Linked DNA regions of Homo sapiens: region 2 is linked to region 1. Evidence: fine-mapped expression QTL. Tissue or cell type: thyroid. Region 1 holds a variant in brackets; the other region holds the start of a gene. All regions are shown on one strand. Distances are between the middles of the regions.

Region 1 (5,300 bases):
GCTTCAGTCCATCAGTGTGGTGGTGGATGAACAGCAGTGGCCGAACAGTTTCCATGATCCTGTTAGCACTTGTTCTTGTTACACTCCTTGTCCCTTTCTCTTTCATGGCCTTTGTCACTGTTCAACAGTCAGAGGACTGATGCTAGGTGGACCACCAATACAGCCTGTCCACCAAACCTCAGTGGTCCATCCAGATGAGCAGGGGCGAACTAGAACCCTTACCTGGGACTTAATCTTAGAATTACACAGAAAAGCCTTTTTTCTCTCATCAAAAAGCCTCAACACTTCAGCTGCTATGGCATCAGCCTTATGAAGAAGCTGACCTGGGAGAATAAAGCCAGCACAAGAGAGAATCATAAATGAAAGATAAGAGAGTCCCAACAGCACCCATGTTCCTAACTTCACACATTAAAGCCAGTTTCAAATGACCTAAGATCAATCCACTTTTTTTCTTAGTATTTGCTAATTGCAACCAAAGAATTCTGACTAAAATAGACATCGGAGGTGTTGTGTTATGTTTTCCCAGAGCTGCCACAACATATTATCATAAACTAGGTGGCATGTAAACAGAAATTTATTGGCTCACAATTCCAGAAGATCAAAGCCTGAAGTCAGGTGACAGCAGGGCCATGCTCCCCCTGAAGGCTCCAGCGGGGAATCCTTCCTGCGTCTTCCTGGCTTCAGGTGGTTGCCAGCAATTCTCGGCTCGCAGCTGCATCACTCCAATCTCTCCCTTCATCACTGCATGGCCTTCCACCCTCTCCGTGTCTCTCTGTCTTTCTGTGTCTCCAAATCTCCCTCTCCTTGTAAGGACACCAATCATTTCATTTGGGGCCCACCCTAATCCGATATGACTTCATCTTAACTTCATTACATCTACAAAGACCCTATTTCCAAATAAAGACACAATTCCAGGTTTTGTGTCTACTACATTTACAAGTGACGAACACTAAAATTTGATCTTGGCTGATTCAAGGTGTGACAGAGAACCTTGAATAGGCTCAAGGAGGCAAAACTACTTTGCTGCTTAGTGCACTGTGCATTAAGTTCTTCCCTTTTGTCTCTTGGGAGTCAATCCCCATGCATTCTGAAATGATTTAGGGGACCTTGCAGAAATCAGTGTAGTCAATTGTGTCAACTACTTCCTAAGAAATTCAGTAAGATGCAGTGGAAGCTCTAGAGAGAAGCCACAGGCTCAGCCAACCTGCCTAGACACAGAAATGGAACAGGTGAGCAAACATGCATGGGGAGTAGCATTTAGCCCATGTCCAAATAGCTAACACCATTTAAGGACAATCGTGCAGTGACCAGGAATGAGGACACTCAGGAAGCAGCAGAGTGGACTCCCTTGGGCAAAGGGCAAGGCAGCTGCTGCTGTCAAGGGGCAGAAAAATCCCAGGCCGATCCAGACTTAAGATGTGGTTTGTATACTCTCCTTGCTGTGGGAGATTGGATTATGGTCTATCAAAGATTCACTCTATTCTCTTTAACCTCCATGACAGAAGCATACTTCTCTCCCCATTGATGTTGGCCAATGAGCATTAACAGACTTCACCCAAGCAGGGGCTTGAAATGCTCATGAAATGCCTGTCCCTTGTGCTTCTGCCATTGCCCCAAGGAGAGCACATGCTAAGCAGCACGGCACGGGAACAGCTACATGAAGCTGACTTGAAACCCACCTGCAGCCTGGAGCCAAGCCCAGCCCTGACTTAATCAGCTTAACTCCAAGCAACCTGCTGATGTGCGAGCAAGAAATCAATGGTTGTTGCCATAAGCCATTGAGTTTGGGGGTGGTTTGTTATGCAGCATATTTGTGAGAATAGCTAACTAATAGAATAGCTAATAGAGCTCTGTTCCCGAGATAAAATGGATAGACAACTGATTAGAGCTTTAGAAATTGTATCGTTTTCCAATCCTGGCAAACAGGAATTCAAACCTTATTGTAATTATATTTGCTGAGCCAGAAACATTTCTCTGCCAAAAAAATAAGTTTAAAAATGAATATTCTTAGCGATCCCTGGCCCAAATAAAGCATGATACACATGCTGAGCTAAGTTGCATGTTCTTTATACATTGCTAAATAAGAATTTTCATTATCCTGTTTTTCCTCTACTGTTTCATTTCAGATGGTTGGGTAGCTAAATTTGATATGT[G/TG]GCAGGATCCCATGAAGCTATTCATCCAGAACTGACCCAGAAAACAAACCTTGGCCACAGTTCTGAGCTCAGAGTTAGACCCAAAGCTGCCTTGCTTTGACATTCATCCTTCCTCATCCTCAGCCTGCCTGTTCCCTGGAGGGTGCTCCTGCGTGCCCTCCTTACGTGGTGCTTGTGTGCCCACCTGCACCCCAGAAGGAGCTCCCAGCTGGCCTGTTCCAGCCCCATGTCACCTCCTACCAGCTTCTGCCCGGGGCAACCCAGAGAACCTCCTCTCAAGCTGGTGAGCTGCAACCACACCTCCAATGAGTCAGAGGCCCAGTCTTGGGGAGTGGGGCCCCTTTTCAAGTTTGTTTCTTCCTTGGGGACTCTCCCAGAGCCCAAATATTTTCTTCAGGTACCCCTTTATTGTTAACCCCATATAACATTTAATATTATTTATATTGATTTTCCTTTCCAAATTACTATGTGGTTTCTGTTTCCTCATTGGATGTTGATTGATTCAATTGCAGAAACTGATACAAGTTTTTCCTAAATAAACATTAATTTTATTAGTGACAGTTACTATTCTCTGGAAACCTAAATGACTTAGTTTTCTTTATTAAAATGTTTTGTTTAATAGCCTAAGCTAGGTAATTTCAAGCTTATTAATTTTCACTACATTTTATTTCAAATACACACTGGTGTATGCAATCTCTCCATCTCAGACTCTATTTAGCTCTCCCAAGCTCCACCGGCCTCACTGTCTCCCTCTGTTTCTAAAGTGGCTAACCCACAGCACAATGTACACAGAGTTTGCAAACACCCTAACCATACTGATCTGAGGAGTAAAAGAAAGGAACTAACAAAATTGTTTTGATTTCTATATTGTTGTTTAATTTCTATAACAACTCTACATAATAAAGTTATATTGTGAAAAAAGCTTCAGATTAATTTGCTCAGAATCATGTGATCATAAGCAAACCTCTATCCTTCAAAACATTTTTTCCACTGTCATGCAACTTTTTCATTAATATTATTTTTAATTGAAAAATCATCATTGTACACATGTATTGGGTACAAAGTGAAGTTCTGATATATGTACATGATGTGGAATGTTAAATCAAGTCAATTTACGTATTCATAATGTCACTTATTTTCTGTGGTGAGACATTTGAAGCTTACTCTTTGAGCATTTTGAAGTGTACTTTTAAAATGGTGGGATCATCATCTGGACTATACAAGAAATCTGTCAGTATGGTTATAGTTTCATAGAATTCCTTATATATGTGCACTAGGCAAAGAGATGGGAACAGAGTATTATTAAACTGGTGACTAGCACACAGTAGATTCACAATAAATACTTATTGAGTAAATAAAAAAAAACAGAAGAGTACAAAGTGAATCTTAGAAGTTACAAAAAAGGTGGCAAATTTGGTCTGGAATCCAAGCAGCAGAGGAACAGGTGGATAATACGCATTGTTAATTTCAGTATCTGAAACTCAATGAATAACGAAAGCAATAAAAACAAAAATGGCTGCCACTTATTGAGGATTTACATATGCCAGATCTCTGTCATATTATTTAACCTTCAATGAAAACTTATTGGAATATAGCCTGTCATTATTCCCAGCCTGCAGATGAGAAAATTGCGGGACATGACCTACCTGGAGACTCAGATTAAGTGGCAAAGTCATGACTGAATCAAAATTCAAACTTTTGGCCGGGTATGGTGGCTCATGCCTGTAATCCGAGCACTTTGGAAGGCCGAAGTGGGTGGATCACCTGAAGTCAGGAGTTCGAGACCATCCTGGCCAACATAGTGAAACCTCGTCTCCACTAAAAATACAAAATTAGCCAGGCGTGGTGGCACATGCCTGTTATCCCAGCTACTCGGGAGGCTGAGGCAGGAGAATTGCTTGAACCCAGGAGGTGGAGGTTGCAGTGAGCCAAGATCATGCTCCATCCAGCCTGGGCAACAAGAGCAAAACTCCATCAAAAAAAAAATAAATCCAAACTCTTAGCTACTGCCCTTATACTAATTGTCAAGAAAGAAGAAAACACAACCCAAATTCTTGAAAGGAACAGGGTGTGGGCAGCCAGGGAGTGCTCCCAGGTGTGTGGGCCCAGCGGCACCAGACTCTGCACACAAGAGTGCCTCCTTTCCACCCAGGCCTGGTTTCATGGAATGCCTGCTTCACCTGCCAGCATTTGCCTCAGACACATAAACTTCCCATGGAGTATATGAGTAAGCTCTGACAGCTCCATTGTTGGTGAGCTACTAGATAGCAGGAATTATAACCCAATTAAATTCAATACTCTATGGAAAAGGAAAAGGCAATGCAGTCCATCTTACTGATAGACAATTTTAGAATAGGTGTCTGTGATAGAACACACACATTATTTAATCCCCAAATAAGGGTAAAGTTTTAAAAGACAGTAAACCATAGCAGGCTCAGATATTATCTCTAAAGATTTTATTTGATATCCAGGATCCAAGAATGAAAAACATCCAACAATTATGAAACCAGCTTTTGCAATGGCTATCATCACCCAGGAAAAGGCATTGTTTAAAAATCCAAAGAAAATGGAGCAATGTTAAAACCAATCAAGCATTCAAGAACAGGTAAGGGATTAAATAAATAATGGTGAATCCATGTTATGAAATATTGGAGCTGTGCAAATGATATTTCAAGTAATCTTTATGACATGGGGAATATTTTCACTATATAATGTCATCTGAAAAAACATGCATAACGCCAATCTGTTTACACAATTTCATCTCAATTATTGAAAAGAACACATATCTATAAGAAAAAAAAAAAAGGAAGAGGCAGACTCCCGTGGAGGGCAGTTGTGCCAAGCAGAGGCATGGCCTGATGGGCTCATTGGCACCACAGACGTTGCTCTGTGGTGGGAAGAGGAGGCTGGGGGGCCAAATTCTAAGACGTGTGGCTCTCTGCATATATAGCTACGCGCGCACACACACACACACACACACACACACACACAAAGGATTTTCAACAGAGATGCAATCTACAAACTTCCTAGTGACAGGTATCATGTAGTGAGTAAACCCCCAAAAGAATCTTATGCCTATGAGGCAGAAAATTACAGATTTATCAAACTTTCCCAATTATCCATATCTGTCCCTGTCCCTTTCCTCCC
Region 2 (5,300 bases), 220 kb after region 1:
TCCATCACCTCATGGCGTGAACCCAGGAGGCGGAGCTTGCAGTGAGCCGAGACCCTGCCACTGCAGTCCGGCCTGGGCGAAAGAGCGAGACTCTGTCTCAAAAAAATAAATAAATAAACAAATAAATAAATAAAATAAAAAATACCCATCACCTCAATTTTATTTTTTGTGGTTAGATATTTGAAATTTACTTTTTGTTATTTAAATATACAGTACATTATTATTGACTATAGTCATCCTGCTGTGCAATAGATTTCAAAACGCATTTCTCCGGTTTAACTGAATCTTTGCATCTGTGAACAACTTCCCATTTTTCTCCCCAGCAACACAGCCTCTGGTAAGCATCATTATACTCTCTACTTTTATGAATTCAATTTTTAGACCTAAATTTAAATCCAAAAGCTGTAAAACTTCTGTAAAATAACAAAAGGGATATTTAGGTAACTTTGGGTTTGGCAATTACTTTGTAGATACAACAGTAAAGTACATAAAAGACAAATTTCTACCATGAAAGAAGATATTGGTATGAAGTCGTTACAATTAAAAACTTTTGCTCTGGGAAAGGAAATAAGAGAATGGAGAAACAAGCCACAGACGGAGAAAATATTTGCAAAACACCTGTCTGGCATCCAGACCATTAAAAACCACTTACAACTCAACAATAAGAAATCGAACAACCCAATTAGTAAATGGACGAAAGATCTAAAGAGGCTCCCATCAGAGATGGCATATAGAAGGGGAAAAGCTTATGAAAAGATGTTTGCCCTCCCAACGCTTTTCCCTCCCTGCGTCCCTCTCCCTCACACACCCTCCGCTGCAGCGGAGTGGGAGCGGGTCAGGGGCGCTAGGCGGTGACGGTGACGGTGACGTGCTGTCTCTCGGGCGAGGCGTGGGATTTAAGCGCATTATAAGCCGTGGGTCCCGGGGAATCCGAGAGGCTGAGCTTGGAGCCCAGACTGACCCGCCTCTCTCATGGTCCCGGCCCACTGCCCTGCAGAGCCCGCCTTACTCTTCCTCTCCACAGGTCTGCTGTGGCTCCACCAAGCCTGGTAGGCCCACAAGGAGCTGCATCCAGCAGGAGCCGCCGCCCGGGAACAAGCTACCCGCGGGCTCTGGGGACAACCGCCCGTCTGATGAGCTCGGCTGAGCGTGCACGCAATGTCGAAATCAAGGACGCCTGGATGCTTTTCATGGCAGAGTGACAAAAGTTTACCAACAAGAAGAGGAGCAGGGCTGCTGAAAGGTGCGGTGCCGCGGCGCCAGAATGCGGGATCCTGAGCCCTGCATGCGAGTCTTCGCGGGGCCGATCGCTGCGAGCCTCGCTTAGGTCCAGCCGCCTCCAGGGAGGGCAATATCCACGAGACGCGGGGAGTGAGGGCGGTGCTGGCCGCACCCCTGGTCCTGGGGCCGCGGGAGCCGTGCTAGCAGGCCGCCTTCCACTGCCGCCTGCGCCGGGTCGGGTTGCTGCAGCGGTGCCCGCTGCAGGAGCTCCGCGCCTGCTGCTTCTCCGACGTCAGGGCGCCGCCAGGATGACAGGTGCAGGAGGCTGCGGCTGTGGGCAGATGTGGTTTCCAGCCCCAGGTCCCGGCGGCCCCTGGCTTCCCAGCCCGCTGTCCTGTGGGCAAGAAGATGAAGAAAGTCACCCCATCAGCAGGTCAGCTGCCCCGCCTGGCAGCCCAGCCAGACAAGGCAACCGAAGTTCATCCTGTCTGAGTTGACTTTGTGCAGGCAGCGGGCCGGCGCCCAGGATGCTGGGGAGCCCTGCGCGCCGGAGGCCGACAAGCCGTGGGGCCCAGAGGCGCCACAGGGCGAGAAGGCACCCGCCTCCCAGCGCTTTCACCCCCCGGCCCGCCCGACCCGCTAGGTGTAGCAGTGGCTGCGGCCAAGCCAGGCATTCTGCCCGGCGGCGGCTGCACAGGGGCGAAAACTGAGAACCCCTGCTCAACCCCATCCGGAGTGACTGCCAAGTGCCCATGCCAGCGACCCCGATCCCCCTCCGGTGGAGGAATGGGCGGGAGGCACGGCCTGGGGGCCCTCAGGCTGGGCGCGCTGGCGATCCCGAGGCCGACCAGGCCATGCACCTCCAGCCCGCCTGGGCACCCAAGCTGCATCCGCCTTCTGTGTGCAGGCAGCAGCCTCCAGGCAACCCCCGAGCCCGCCAGCACTCCCCACATCTCAGAACCGGGGCCAGATGTCCCTGTGGCTGCGGCTGAGCTAGGTGGTCTGCCCTGCAGCGGGAACCGGCTCTCAGCCCCATTCCCCGTGGCTGCAGAGGGCCACTGGCTAGAGGTCCCGAGCTTCAGCAGACGAGGAGCCGAGCAGGGGCAGGGCCTGGCGGGCTCTCAGGCCAGGTGCACTCGCGATCCAGAGGCCGCCTAGGCCGTGCTCCACCACCTGGGCGCCCAAGCTGCAGGCGCCCTCTACCTGCTGGCGACAGCTGCCTGGCAACTCCCAAGATGGCTGGCGCTCCCAGCCTGGCAGAACCGGGGCTACATGTCGCCCTGGCTGCGGCCAAGCCAGGCGGTCTACCCGGCGGCGGCTGCACCGGGACAGGAACCGACCCCCCAGTCCCATCCCCGGTGGCTGCGGAGGGCCCCTGTCAGCGGCCCCGATCTCTCTTCGGAGGAGGAGCGGGTCGGGAGTCAGGGCCAGGCAGGCCCTCAGGCGGGAAGGGATGCACTCCTGGGATTCCGGGACGTCCCGCGGGAGCCCAGGAGAACCCGCAAGCCAGCGACGCGTGCGCCCGTGCTGCAGGTGCCCCCTGCCGGCCACGAGGGCTTGGGAGCGGCTTCCGGAGTCCCGGCTGGCGCTGAGTTGTAGGCGCGCGCCTAACTGGCATCGCGGGGACTCACTCGGTCTGAGAGTTCGGAGCGCTGAGGTTCAGGCGCGCGCCTAACGGCTTAGCTGGGCTCACTCGGTCTGAGAGGTCGGAGTCTGCGAGTGTCGCTGCTGAAGGCTGTGGTGGACCGGGCTGGATCGCGGATTCTGAGCTACATTGCGGGTTTGGGGGTGGATCTTGGATTTGGGGGTGGATCGCGGGTTGCGGGGGGGATCGCGGGTTGCGGGGGAGATCGCGGATTTGGGGCGGAGTGGGGGTGGAAAGGCCACGAGGAGCCGCCGCGGCTCAGGAGCGGGTGGTGGGCGTCTGAGAAGTCGCCACCATGAGGAAGCTCTTCAGCTTCGGGAGACGCCTGGGCCAGGCGCTCCTGAGCTCCATGGACCAAGAGTATGCGGGTCCGGGTTACGACATTCGGGACTGGGAACTGCGGAAGATCCACAGGGCTGCCATCAAGGGCGACGCCGCGGAGGTGGAGCGCTGCCTGACGCGCAGGTTCCGGGACTTGGACGCCCGCGACAGAAAAGACAGGTAGCTCGGGGACTCAGCCCGCGGTGGGAGGGGGCCGCAGGCCCGGCTTCCCTGCAGCCCGGCAGCCCCTGGGGCGGGGACCTTGGAGGGCGCCGGGCACCCTCGGAGCAGCGGAGCCAAATGGAGCCTCAGCTGCTTTCCGTCGCTGGCAATTCCCCGTCCGTCGCGCTTGGTGGAAAATTTGAGTGATTTAACTCACAAAGTTAGGCATATCCACGTTTAAAACATGGGGCCATATACATGATAGGGAGGTGCCTAATGAGAACTCATTCCCCTGTCAAAAATACCATGAGCCTTTTTCAGTAGGCGAAGAGTTCTCAGATAAAACCCTGTGTCGGTTTTACATCCGAATCCACCTAGGTAGACAGGTTCTTTACTGGAGCTTCTTAGAGGGACACTGGGAAGCGCGAGGTGGGTTCCTTGAATGGGAAGACTCAGTTTTCTCAAAATATGAACTGTTTCCATGTTTATCAGTTTTACATAAACTGAATGAAGATATCAAGGTTTTATCATTTTTGCATGACACTTGCTATCTATCTTACCATTGTGATGACATTTAAAAATGTTTATAATGGAGTGAAAAGACTTGCTCCTCTAGATATCAAAATGTGCTATTAATTCCCACAATTAATTATTTACTAACAGCTGAAAACACAGATAAATAAATGGAACAGAACAGGAAATCCAAAAACACTGAAATATATGTAAGATATATACATAGGGATGGATAATGGTAACGTTTCAGATGAGTAGGAAAAGATGAGTTATTAATAAAATGCCTGCTGTGTGAAGAAAACTAATGAAACTTTATGTCGCAAAAATGGGTTCCTGATGGAATTCAGACTGAAATTTTTACACATGCAAAATGAGAAAAAGTACCAGAAGAAAACGCAAAGACTTATTTATACAGGTACATTTTATGTTAACAAAGGCCTTCGTAAGAATGACCTCGCAAGCAGGCATTCTGAAAGTTGATTTAGCAAACTAAAAATTAAAATCCCCTGTGTATCAGAAAAAAATTAACAAAAGATAACACACTCGAAAAATATTTCCTATATATATTTTTACTAATATATAAAAATATATATTCAGATGAAAAGTGTATCTTCATCCTACAGGGAATTTATTCTTTATTATATATAATACATATTACTGATTATATGTATAAGAAATTGTATATATTACTAATATAATGTGTTATATATATATATCAGTTATATATATACAGATAAAAAGCACATCTTTATTTTACAGGGAATTCTTTCCAATCAAATCCACAAGAAAAGAACTCTAGAAGTGAGCAAAGCACTTTTTGCAGATTCACAAGTTACTTATGTACATAGGAAAAAATCCTTAGTGTTTCTCATAAGATAAGTTAAAAGAGGAGTGAGACTGTGTTCTATCCACAGTGTTTGTGAGAATGAAGAGCAGTGGCACTTACACTGCTGCTTGAAGTTTAAGTTGCTGATGACTTTTCAAGTGGATAATTTGGAGATAATTACCACATTTTAAAAATGTATATGCCCTTTACCCATCAATTCCATTGTATTAAAATACCTTCAGAAAATAGAGATACATGCACTTTTTTTCCCCAGCATTTATGTTAACAAGAACCCATAGAATGGTATGTGGCCATTGAAGGTGGCAATAGGTGGAGAAGTATGTTGATATGTGAAGATGCATTTTGTTACAGCCAGTGAGGAAAAACAAATCAGTTTGCTTGCACATACACACAAACATACTATGGTCTGGTGTTAGGCAATACTATGCACAAAATAGGATAAAATTTGTAACTTCTGAGCATTTGTATTTTAAAGTTTTTTGTTCCTTTTTCTTACCTTTGATTTCTGAAGTGAGCATTTATAAAATTTCTAGTAAAAATTTATTATTAATGGAATAAATTTTGGGAAGAGAAATATGACTCTTGAACAGA

What was found. PIP is the estimated chance that this variant, and not a neighbour inherited with it, causes the effect.
Region 2: it holds the start of FAM201A, and the variant in region 1 is fine-mapped to the expression of FAM201A in thyroid (GTEx, PIP 0.90).

What each region holds. Positions count from the first base shown.
Region 1 is chr9:38,837,535-38,842,834 of GRCh38, reverse strand. No RefSeq gene overlaps it. Among named protein-coding and RNA genes, the nearest start is that of FAM240B, 120 kb to the right of the region's middle. The variant G/TG (reference allele first, on the strand shown) is at 2,154.
Region 2 is chr9:38,618,147-38,623,446 of GRCh38, reverse strand. It overlaps FAM201A (family with sequence similarity 201 member A), which reads right to left and starts at 2,359. Exons shown (of 2, transcript NR_027294.1): 1 at 2,082-2,359; 2 at 163-1,615. ANKRD18A (ankyrin repeat domain 18A) reads left to right here and starts at 2,851. Exons shown (of 16, transcript NM_147195.4): 1 at 2,851-3,367. The coding sequence starts at 3,162. RefSeq lists enhancers at 1,224-1,433, 2,086-2,205.